Regions from separate parts of the Homo sapiens genome. Here region 1 is linked to region 2. A link means that fine-mapping ties the variant in region 2 to the expression of a gene that starts in the linked region. Tissue or cell type: monocytes after interferon gamma. Region 2 holds a variant in brackets; the other region holds the start of a gene. All regions are shown on one strand. Distances are from middle to middle. Region 1 holds the start of VPS26A (VPS26 retromer complex component A). Region 2 overlaps SRGN (serglycin).

Evidence for each region.
Region 1: VPS26A starts here. The variant in region 2 is fine-mapped to the expression of VPS26A in monocytes after interferon gamma (Fairfax 2014, PIP 0.95).

What each region holds. Positions count from the first base shown.
Region 1 is chr10:69,121,154-69,126,153 of GRCh38, reverse strand. VPS26A (VPS26 retromer complex component A) reads right to left here and starts at 1,976. Exons shown (of 9, transcript NM_004896.5): 1 at 1,874-1,976. The coding sequence starts at 1,876. RefSeq lists enhancers at 1,012-1,518, 2,383-2,742 and a silencer at 1,723-2,122.
Region 2 is chr10:69,094,398-69,099,397 of GRCh38, reverse strand. SRGN (serglycin) reads right to left here. Exons shown (of 3, transcript NM_002727.4): 2 at 2,167-2,314. Among named protein-coding and RNA genes, the nearest start is that of SRGN, 8.8 kb to the right of the region's middle. The variant T/AAAAAT (reference allele first, on the strand shown) is at 1,971.

The sequences.
Region 1 (5,000 bases), 27 kb before region 2:
CTCACTTCTTTTGGTAAAGATATCTTCAAGGGCGCATTTGGAATATTGCGATTTTCAGGATTAACTATTAATATGCAAGTTAAAACTCTTGAGCTTTTAAATAACTGGACTGCAATATATATGACTATAAAAACATGCTAGCAATTGTTTTTATAGTTTTCTAATCTTGGCCTAAACCTCCTATCACTGACTTTAGGTTAATTTAGGATTTTTCATATAATTTCTGAACCCAATATTGAGCATTACCAATTAGCAAAAATACATGGTAGATACATAAAAAGGCAACTTTTTAGTCCCCACTGAAGGAATTTCACTAAGTCCAGTGGATGTAAAGAAATGCAACTCATTGCATTTCTGAGGTGGAAGGCTGACTCTCAAAATTCATTCACTTAGCCCATACACAAGCAATGAAACAGCAAATTTTCATACATATATTACATCTGTGACCATTTCAGTGTTTTAAAGTTTTACAATTTAGTTTCTGTTTGGGTAACTTGAAAATATAAACTGCTCTTGAACATAATTCAAAAAAGCGTATTAAAAGTAATAATTACAAATGTAAGCAAAAAATAGGAGGACCTTTTAAGTTTTCTTTTCAAATGATATTCAATTAAAGAAGCCTGCCCTAACACTGACTAGGCAAGGTCCCCCAATACTTCCTTCTTAGTATCTGTCACAATTCTAATTTCCACGTTAAACAAATAATTTACACAAATAAATGTTTATCTCTCCCTACATTGTAAGCTACGAGAGCAGGTAGGCGCTGTTTCCATTTTACTGGGGTCCCCTAGGCACACCTGAGCAATTATTTGTTGAATGAAAGAAAAAAAGCTCTAAGAATGAACATGAATGTCTGGATTTTGTTTTGTTTTGTTTTGAAAGCAACATCATTACTGAAATTAAAAGTTATTTATTCAAAGTAGCTTTTTAAAAATATACCTGGCTCGGCCTTTTAAGCCAAAAGTCTCAAGCAGTCTATTGAATCAGTGAGCTTTGGGAAGAGCAGGTAGTATTAGGAGAGCATACAGTAGGCGCTAAATGAAGAGAACTGACGACTACTACCAGAAAATGGGTAAAATGAGATCTAACCTAGAGACTGCCGACACCCAGCTAAATACCACAATGCCCAGGCTAGTGCTTCCGCGGACTGTGGTGAGAGCACTGATTCCCCTCCCTCCTCTGCCTCATAGGCCGTTTCAACAACCCAGAGCGTTAAGTTCAGCGAAATAGCTTGCGGACGGAAATGAGAGCCAATGCTTAAAACGGCGGGCACCAAACGGGTGTCTCTGGAGTTAAAGATATCCCCCATTCCAACGTCCTTTTATTTTTCTCTCCCATTTTACAAGTGTCAACAGAAAGCCTGAACTGGGGTCATGAAATCAAAGAATGTCACCATAGTCAGGTTTTAAAATATCAGAGTTTATCAAGTTCGTGACACACTGAGTGCCCAAGTCCCCCGAAGAGTCCGGAGGTGGGGGGCTCCCGGGTCGCCCCACCTGGATGGAAGAGAGGCTGCCCGGGAGGAGAACAGGGACTGGCTACCTAGGAAGGGGAGGCGGCGACCAGCCCCCGCAGAGGCGGGGTCCGAGTCCCCAGCCAGAGCCCCAACAAGCAGTCGAAGAACGCGGGCAGAGGCTCCGACATGGCCAGGAGAGCACGCCGCCGCCCGTAGGTGCTCGGGCCTCGCCGAGACCGGGAAGAGGTGGCGCCGCCAGCTTTTCCCAGACCCAGGGGTGGCCCGACAGGCCTAACCCCGCTCCCCGCCCTGCTCCCCCGTCCCCTCCTCCGGCGACGCCCGGCCCGCGGTTGGCCGGCCCGCCGCGCGCTCCGGGACGAGGGCGGGAGGCGAGCGCGCTGGCCGCCGCGCACTCACCATTGTCAACGCCGCCGCCGCGTCCCCCCTACTCCACTCCTCTTCCCTCAGGAGAACTCCCAGCCCCGGCTCCCTCCGCTCCGGCGCTCCGTCACGTGACCTCGGGCCGCCCCTCACACGTGACCGCTCCCTTCCTCTCCCCCACCCCCGCACCCGTCCCTCTCCCAGCCTCCTGCCCCGCCCTGCTGGCCGCCAGGCACTCCGGGGAGAGGCCGCTTGGAGGCGGGGCCTCAGGCTCCACCCTTCGGAGGGTGGAGAGGGGCGGGCAAATTACGTCGAGTGGGCGGGGCCTGAACAGAGGCGGGTTCGCGGGCTCCTCCTCGCCGTCTCTTCGGTCACCGGACGAGCGGTTCCGTGTCCGGCCTCTTTACCGCACCCAGTTCCTCTTTGTGAAAGTTTGAGCGGCTGGGAAGGAAGGAGGAGAGGAAGGATTCATCTGGAGGCTCTCTCCTTGGCTGGGTCCTTGGGTTGCCGAGGCGAGTGGGAGCCCTACTTCCTTAGGCCTCGCAAGAAGAGATGTGCTCTCTTCGTCCACGGCGAGGCGTTCTGCCACCTTGCCTGAACGCAGTCCCGCTCCACCTCCTTCTGAGTCTGGGTTTTCTTAACTTGGCTTTCTCGCCTCTGAAGAGAAGACCAGTAGAAAAAAATCCTAGGGTACAACTTTCATTGCTTCCCAAAGTCCCCAGATGGCCCCTGAGCGACCCACCCTGAGCCTGGAGGGCTCACAAACCCACCGTTCCGCCCAGCCGTTCTGAGAGGGCAAAGGCGCTCCCCCGAAAGTCCCACGGCGCAGCTGAAGACTACGCTGGCCTGAACTGGATCCTCCTCCCTAGTGTAAGCCTATAGGACCTCCAGATGAGGAAAATACTGTGTGGGATTTCAGAGTATAGTGTTGAAGGGCCACAGTGCACTCTATGCATAACCAAAGCAGAAGAAAAATCCATCCCTGAACGCACTATAATTACCCCACCTTAAAACAGAAGTTTGTGAGGCGAGTCCATGAAACAGGTATCAAAAAAAATTTTTTTATACTTAATCCTCAGTGTGAGCCTCAAATTTAAGAGGATTGAAATCAGAGTATCATCTCTAACCGCAATAGAATTAAAATTAGAAATCAACCCAAACAAGCCAGAAAATTCCGGAAATATTGGAAATTAAGCAACATAATTCCAAATCTCTAGGTCAAAGAAGAGATCAATGGAAATTTAAAAATAAGTTGAGGCCGGGCACGGAGGCTCACACTTGTAATCCCAACACTTTGGGAGGCCAAGGCAGGTGGATCACCTGAGGTCAGACACGAGTATCTCTTGAATCCGGGAAGCGGAGGTTGCAGTGCCCGAGATGGAGCCACTGCACTCCAGCCTGGGCGACAGAGCAAGACTCTGTCTCAAAAATAAAAAATAATAAAAATAAAATAATTTGAAATAAAAGATAATAATACAACATATCAAATTTGTGGAATGCAGTGACACTGTGTAAAAGGAAAATTTGTAGCTTTAAATGCACATATTTGGGCCAGGCATGGTGGCTCACAGTCTATAATTCCAGCACTTTGAGAGGCCGAGGCGGACGGATCACTTGAGGTCAGAAGTTTGAGACCAGCCTGGCCAACATGGCGAAACCCCGTCTCTACTAAAAATACAAAAATCAGCGGGGCATGGTGGTGCACGTCTGTAATCCTAGCTACTCGGTAGGCTGAGGCAGGAGGATCACTTAAACCTAGGAGGCAGAGATTGCAGTGAGCCAAGATTGCGCCACTGCACTCCAGCCTGGTGACAGAGCGAGACTCCATCTCAAAAAAAATAAATAACTATAGTAACACTGATATTGTTGTCTGTTTGAACTGTGAAAAGAAAGCAGCAAAAACAATGCAAATCTTTAATTAATAAAAGTGAAAAATGGTTTTTTTCACTTAGAAGATTTGCCTGTCACCTTGAGAGCTACTCTGGTTCCTACCCACTCTTTTCTGGGACTTAAATATCAACATAACAAAGAGAATAGATGAAAATGCCACACAGGCAAAGAAATACTAGCGAAGCCAGGTATAAATAAGAGGTGGCAAAGAAAGTCACACTAGAAACCAATTTGTACTAATTATTTATTCTACTGATCAAAACCCAATCAATAATTGTGCTATCATAATAAATACAAGAAGCAACAGAATTGTTGAGCTAGTTATTTGTCTGTCTGCCTACCTATCAATCTATTCAGCAAGCCAGAATGTTAGAGCTAGATTGTGAGCAGTACAGTGTTTCACCAGCTGAGAACTGTGGCATCTCTATATTTGCCCTCTGCCAAAAAAAAAAAAAAAAAAAAGGTGGGGTGTGTGAGGAAAATGTGACTAACTTACAGGGATTGACTTTCATCAACAAAAGTACCGAGTTTAGGTCAGAAAGTATTAGATGATAAGATAATCTGAGCTTTTATCAATCAGAAACCAGTTAAGAGAAAAATAGTCATTTGTTCAAATTCACAAAGACTAAAAATTCACATTAATAACTGTGAGAGTGTCAGGGAGCAGCTGTTTGCAGAGTTCACTGGCAAAGTTAAGGGAAGAGAATAAAATACAAATACACAAAAAGGATAAAGAAAGAAAATACAATTTAGGCCGGGCGCAATGGCTCACACCTGTAATCCCAACACTTTGGGAGGCTGAGGTAGGTGGATCACTTCAGCCCAGGAGTTTGAGACCAGCCTGAGCAACATGGTGAGACCTTGTCTCTTGCAAAAGAACAAAAATTAGCTGGGAGTGGTGGCATGTGCCTATTGGACCAGCTGCTCAGGAGGCTGAGGTGGGAGGATAGCTTGAGCCAGGGAGGCAGAGTTTGCAGTGAGCAGAGATTGCACCACTGCACTCCAGCCTGAGCAACAGAGCGAGACCCTGTCTCAAAAAATAAATAATAAATTAATTTAATTTAAAAATAAAATACAATTTAAAGCATGCCAGTGAAGTATAGAAACACTTTTTTCTTTTAACCTCCCAGAGCACATAGAATAGATTTTGCTTAAAAACTTTAGCGAGTGCAGCTGTAATCATGGTAAATATTCTTTTTTTAAAAAATTACAATTATAAAAGCCAAACATTTTTTCACAATATACAGTTTTTTCTTAAATGTACCAATACTTA
Region 2 (5,000 bases):
GGAGTTCGAGGCTGCAGTGAGCTATGATCACACCACTGCACTCCATCCTGGGTGACAGAGGAGACCCTGTCTCAAAAAAAAAAAAAAACAAAAGAGAAAGTTGCCAGGATCCCAAAGTGATGTGAAATGTACCTGGTTTGGAGCATGATGATTAACCCTGGCTTTGAGGAGAGTGATTTTCTAGGTTTGAGCCTGGAGATTAAAACTTTTATGATAATCCTTTTCTTAATATGTATATTTTGCTACATCCTACATAGCTTTAGTATTCATTGAATTAATGGTTTCTAATATAATTCAATTTTTTGTTACTTATGAATTTATATCAGGTCTTTTTTGCAAGTTTAAAGCAAGTTTTATGTGATCAAAAGAAGAGATTTGATTTTTGTTTTACAAGTCTTGGCTAATTATTCTTCCTTTCCCTAATTTTTTTTTTCTTTTTTTGAGACAGAGTCTTACTCTGTTGCCTAGGCTGGAGTGCAATGGCATAAATAGGGTTCACTGCAGGCTCAACATAGGCTCAAGAGATTCTCCTACCTCAGCCTCCCGAGTAGCTGGGACCACAGGTGCACATCACTATGCCTAGCTAATTTTTGTATTTTTTGTAGAGACAGGGTCTTGCTGTATGGCCCAGGCTGGTCCCAAACCTCCTGGGCTCAAGGGATCCTCCCACCTCAGCCTCCCAAGGTGCTGGGATTACAGGCATGAGCCTCTGCACCTGGCCATTTTTAAAAATAATTACCAACTACTTGAAGAACATTTTTTTAATATAAAAAATGTATTTGAAATAGAGATAGGGTCTCACTATGTTGCCCAGGCTGGCCTCAAACTCCTGGGCTCAAACAATCCTCCCGCCTCGGCCTCCCAAAGTGCTGGGATTACAGGCATGAGCCACCACACCTGGCAGAAGAACATTTTAATCACCTCCTCCAAAAAAAACCCTCATACCCATTAGCAGTCACTCCTTATTCCTCCCTTTCCCCAGCCCCTGTAACCCACTAATCTACTTTCTGCCTCTAGGGATTTGCCTATTCTGGACATTTCATCTAAATGGAATCATACAATATGTGGCTTTTGGTGTCTGGCCTTCCTTCACTCTGCATAATGTTTCCAAGGTTTATCTATGTTGTAGCATGTATCAGTACTTCATTCTTTTTATGACCCAATAATATTCCTTTGTATGCTTATACCACATTTTGCTTATCCATTCAGTTAATTATTGGATTTTTATATATAGTGTGTTCTGTTTACACAAATAAAACAATGTTCAATCATTTTCAATACCTGTTGATGAAAAGTCCTCAATGCTCCTCTCTACCATCCACAAAAAAAATTTCAAAAACATAGGTGAATCATGTATACTCGCACATGTCATATGCCAGTATATACAGTACACTTTTACCATGTACTGCAGAGTAAGAGCCAAACTACCAAAGCAAGAGCTCGAAGCAAAACACTCTGGACAGCTTGAAGAAAAACACTCCCACATCTGTGCCAAGAGGTTGTGAAATTACAGACACTTTAAAATTAGAGAAAAGGCCGGGTACAGTGGCTCATGCTTGTAATCCCAACACTTTGGGAGGCCAAGGTGGGTGGATCACCTGAGGTCAGGAGTTTGAGACCAGCCTGGCCAAGATGATGAAAGCCCGTCTCTACTAATAATACAAAAAATTAGGCCAGGCGCAGTGGCTCACGCCTGTAATCCCAGCATTTTGGGAGGTCAAGGCGGGCGGATCACTAGGTCAGGAGATCGAGACCATCCTGGCTAATAAGGTGAAACCCCGTCTCTACTAAAAATACAAAAAAATTAGCCGGGCGTGGTGGCGGGTGCCTGTAGTCCCAGCTACTCGGGAGGCTGAGGCGGGAGAATGGCGTGAACCCAGGAGGTGGAGCTTGCAGTGAGCCGAGATTGCGCCACTGCACTCCAGCCTGAGCGACAGACTGAGACTCCGTCTCAAAAAAAAAAAAAAAAA[T/AAAAAT]TAGCTGGGCATGGTGGCAGGCGCCTGAAATCCCAGCTGCTCCAGAGGCTGAAGCAGGAGAATCGCTTGAACCCAGGAGGCGGAGGTTGCAGTGAGCTAAGATTGCGCCATTGCACTCCAGCCTGGGCAAGAAAAGTGAAACTCCGTCTCAAATAAATAAGTAATTAATTAATTAATTAGAGAAAAGTCCACTTACGGAAAAAGGTCAGTCCTCAGACGGGGGATCTTGTTGGATTCACCTGGAAGTAGTTCGAACATTGGTCCTTTTTCTTCAAGGCAGTTTGCAGAATTACTGTCTGGATTGCAGCGCACCCATTGGTACCTGGCTCTCCGCGTAGGATAACCTGCCCGAGGAACCCACATTGTTACTAAGTATCTACTACACAGCTTCTAATCACTCTGTCCTAAGAAGTTTTTATTTTTATTTTTTTTTCGAGACAGGGTCTCAGTCGGCTGCCCAAGCTGGAGTGCAGTACTGTGATCATAGCTCACTGCAACCTTGAACTCCTGGGCTCAAGCCATTCTCCCACCCCAGCCTCTTGAGTAGCTGGGAATACAGGGGCACCACAACGCCCAGCTAGTTTTGTTTTGTTTTTGTTTGTTTGTTTGTTTTTTGGAGAGATGGGGGTCTCACTATGTGCCCAGGCTGGTCTCAAACACCTGGGCTCAAGCAGTCCTCCTGCCTTGGCCTCCCAGTGTGCTGAGATTACAGGAATGAGCAACTGCACCCCACCCGCCCTAAGAAGGTTTTAACTAAATAGATTCTAAATTTGGTAAAAGGCAAAATGTAGACAGATTTTGTGCCCATTCATATAACAGCAGCACCCACTATGTGCCAACATTTTATATAAATTGTCCTTCTTACAACACTCCAAAAAGTAGCAGTTTAAAGTTAGAATAGGCTTTGGAATCAGCTGCCTGGAGTGAAGTCCCAGGTCTGCTGACTAGTTATGGAACCTTAACTTCTCTGAACCCTCACTGTAATATGAAGATACTAATAGTGTCATAAGCCTATCACAAAAATTAAATGAGAAAATACACTTAGAGAATTTAACACAGTGCCAGGCACACAGTAAGCACTTGATAATATTAACTGTTGTTACTTTTGTACTATTATCTCAATTTTACACAAAAGAAAATTGCAGCCACACAGGCGCTAGGATTCCAACCCACATCTGACCCCAAAGCCCACATCTTTTCATAGAGATGAGTCAAATCAGGTTCAGAAAGGGGAAGGAACACACTGTGGAGTACCCGTGGTATCACAGAATTCTAGTTCTTGTGTTTTAGGGCCATACAGTATCCTTAGGAATGAAAAGTAGATAACAATTTGTCCTGTGTCTTTGCACTCAGATTTCACAAGAACAAGTCTCCTCTATTCACAGAGCACCAGGCAGCTTGGAATATCTGAGTCTCAGCTTCTTCTGAATTTCATTTCTATGGAAAAGGCTCCAAATCTGATATTATGAGGTTATATAGGAGATTTATTTATGTATTTATTTTATTTTATTTTATTGAGAGAGAGTCTTGCTGTGTCGCCCAGGCTGGAGTGCACTGTCACGATCTCGGCTCATGGCAACCTCCACCTCCCGGGTTCAAGCAATTTTTCTGCCTCACCCTCTGGAGTAACTGGGATTACAGGCACTCACCACCACGCCCAGCTAATTTTTAGTATTTTTAGTAGAGATGGGGTTTTGCCATGTTGCCCAAGCTGGTCTCAAACTCCTGAGCTCAGGCAATCCACCCACCTTGGCCTCTGAAAATGTGAGGATTACAGGCGTGAGCCACCATGCCCGGCCTATATAGGAGGTTCTTTGTTAGCTAATGAAATAAAATCTTCCTTCCTCAGTTTAGCAAAGACAAAGGCCTGGTGGTGAGAAATACTTCACCGCCCTTCAAAAAGTTCATCTCCTCCCCACTCCAAGCATATACTTTATTCTAATGAGTGCAACTAATAATTACCTAGCAAGAAGGAGCATGTCTAGGATTCTTGAAAGTCAGGAAGGGTAGTTTTAAAGCTCACCACAAAATAATGGAAAACATTCAGATAAATTACAAGGCATCAACTCATAAGAGAATACTAACCAAATGAAGAAAAGTACTTTTTTTTTTTTTTTTTTGAGATGAAGTCTCGCTCTGTTGCCCTGGCTGGGATGCAGTGGCACAATCTCGGCTCACTGCAACCTCTGCCTCCCAGGTTCAAGCGATTCTCCTGCCTCAGCCTCCCGAGTAGCTGGGATGACAGGTGCCCACAATCATATCCAGCTAATTTTTGTATTTTTAGTAGGGATGGGGTTTCACCATGTTGGCCAGGCTGGTCTCGAACTCCTGACCTCAGGTGATCCACCCGCCTCAGTCTCCCAAAGTGCTGGGATTACAGGTGTGAGCCACCACACCCGGCCGAAAGTACTTTTTATGGAAAAGACAATGTGGCATTGTAGAAAAACCTATACTTAAAAATGAGTGAGAGGGTGAGAGGCGGGTAGGCAAAAACTTTTTTTTTTAATAAAATAAAAATAAAAATTAGGTTGGGTGTGGTAGCTCATGCCTGAAATCCCAGCACTTTGGGAGACTGAGGTGGGAGGATCACTTGAGCCCAGGAGTTCAATACAGGCTGGGCAACATAGAGAGACTCCCATTTCTACCAAAAAAGAGAAAAAAGATTTTAAAAATTAGCTGGATGTGGTAGCACACATCTGCAGTCCCAGCTACTTAGGAGGCTGAGGCAGGAAGATTGCTTGAGACTGGGAGGTCACAGTGAGCCAAGATTGCACGGCTGCACTTCAGCCTGGGTGACACAGCGAGACTGTCTCAGAAGAAAAAAGTTTATTTACAAAATTAAAAATAAATAAAAATAACTGAGAAAATCAGAATACCTCTTTGCATGAATAATAGTTTCAATTATATAAACAGACATGGGGGGAAAAATGGAAGGAAATACACAAAAATAACTGGAGGTAGAATCTTTGGTGATTTTTTTTCTCATTTTGTTTTCTAAATTGCTATAATAAACAATATTCCTCTAAAAAC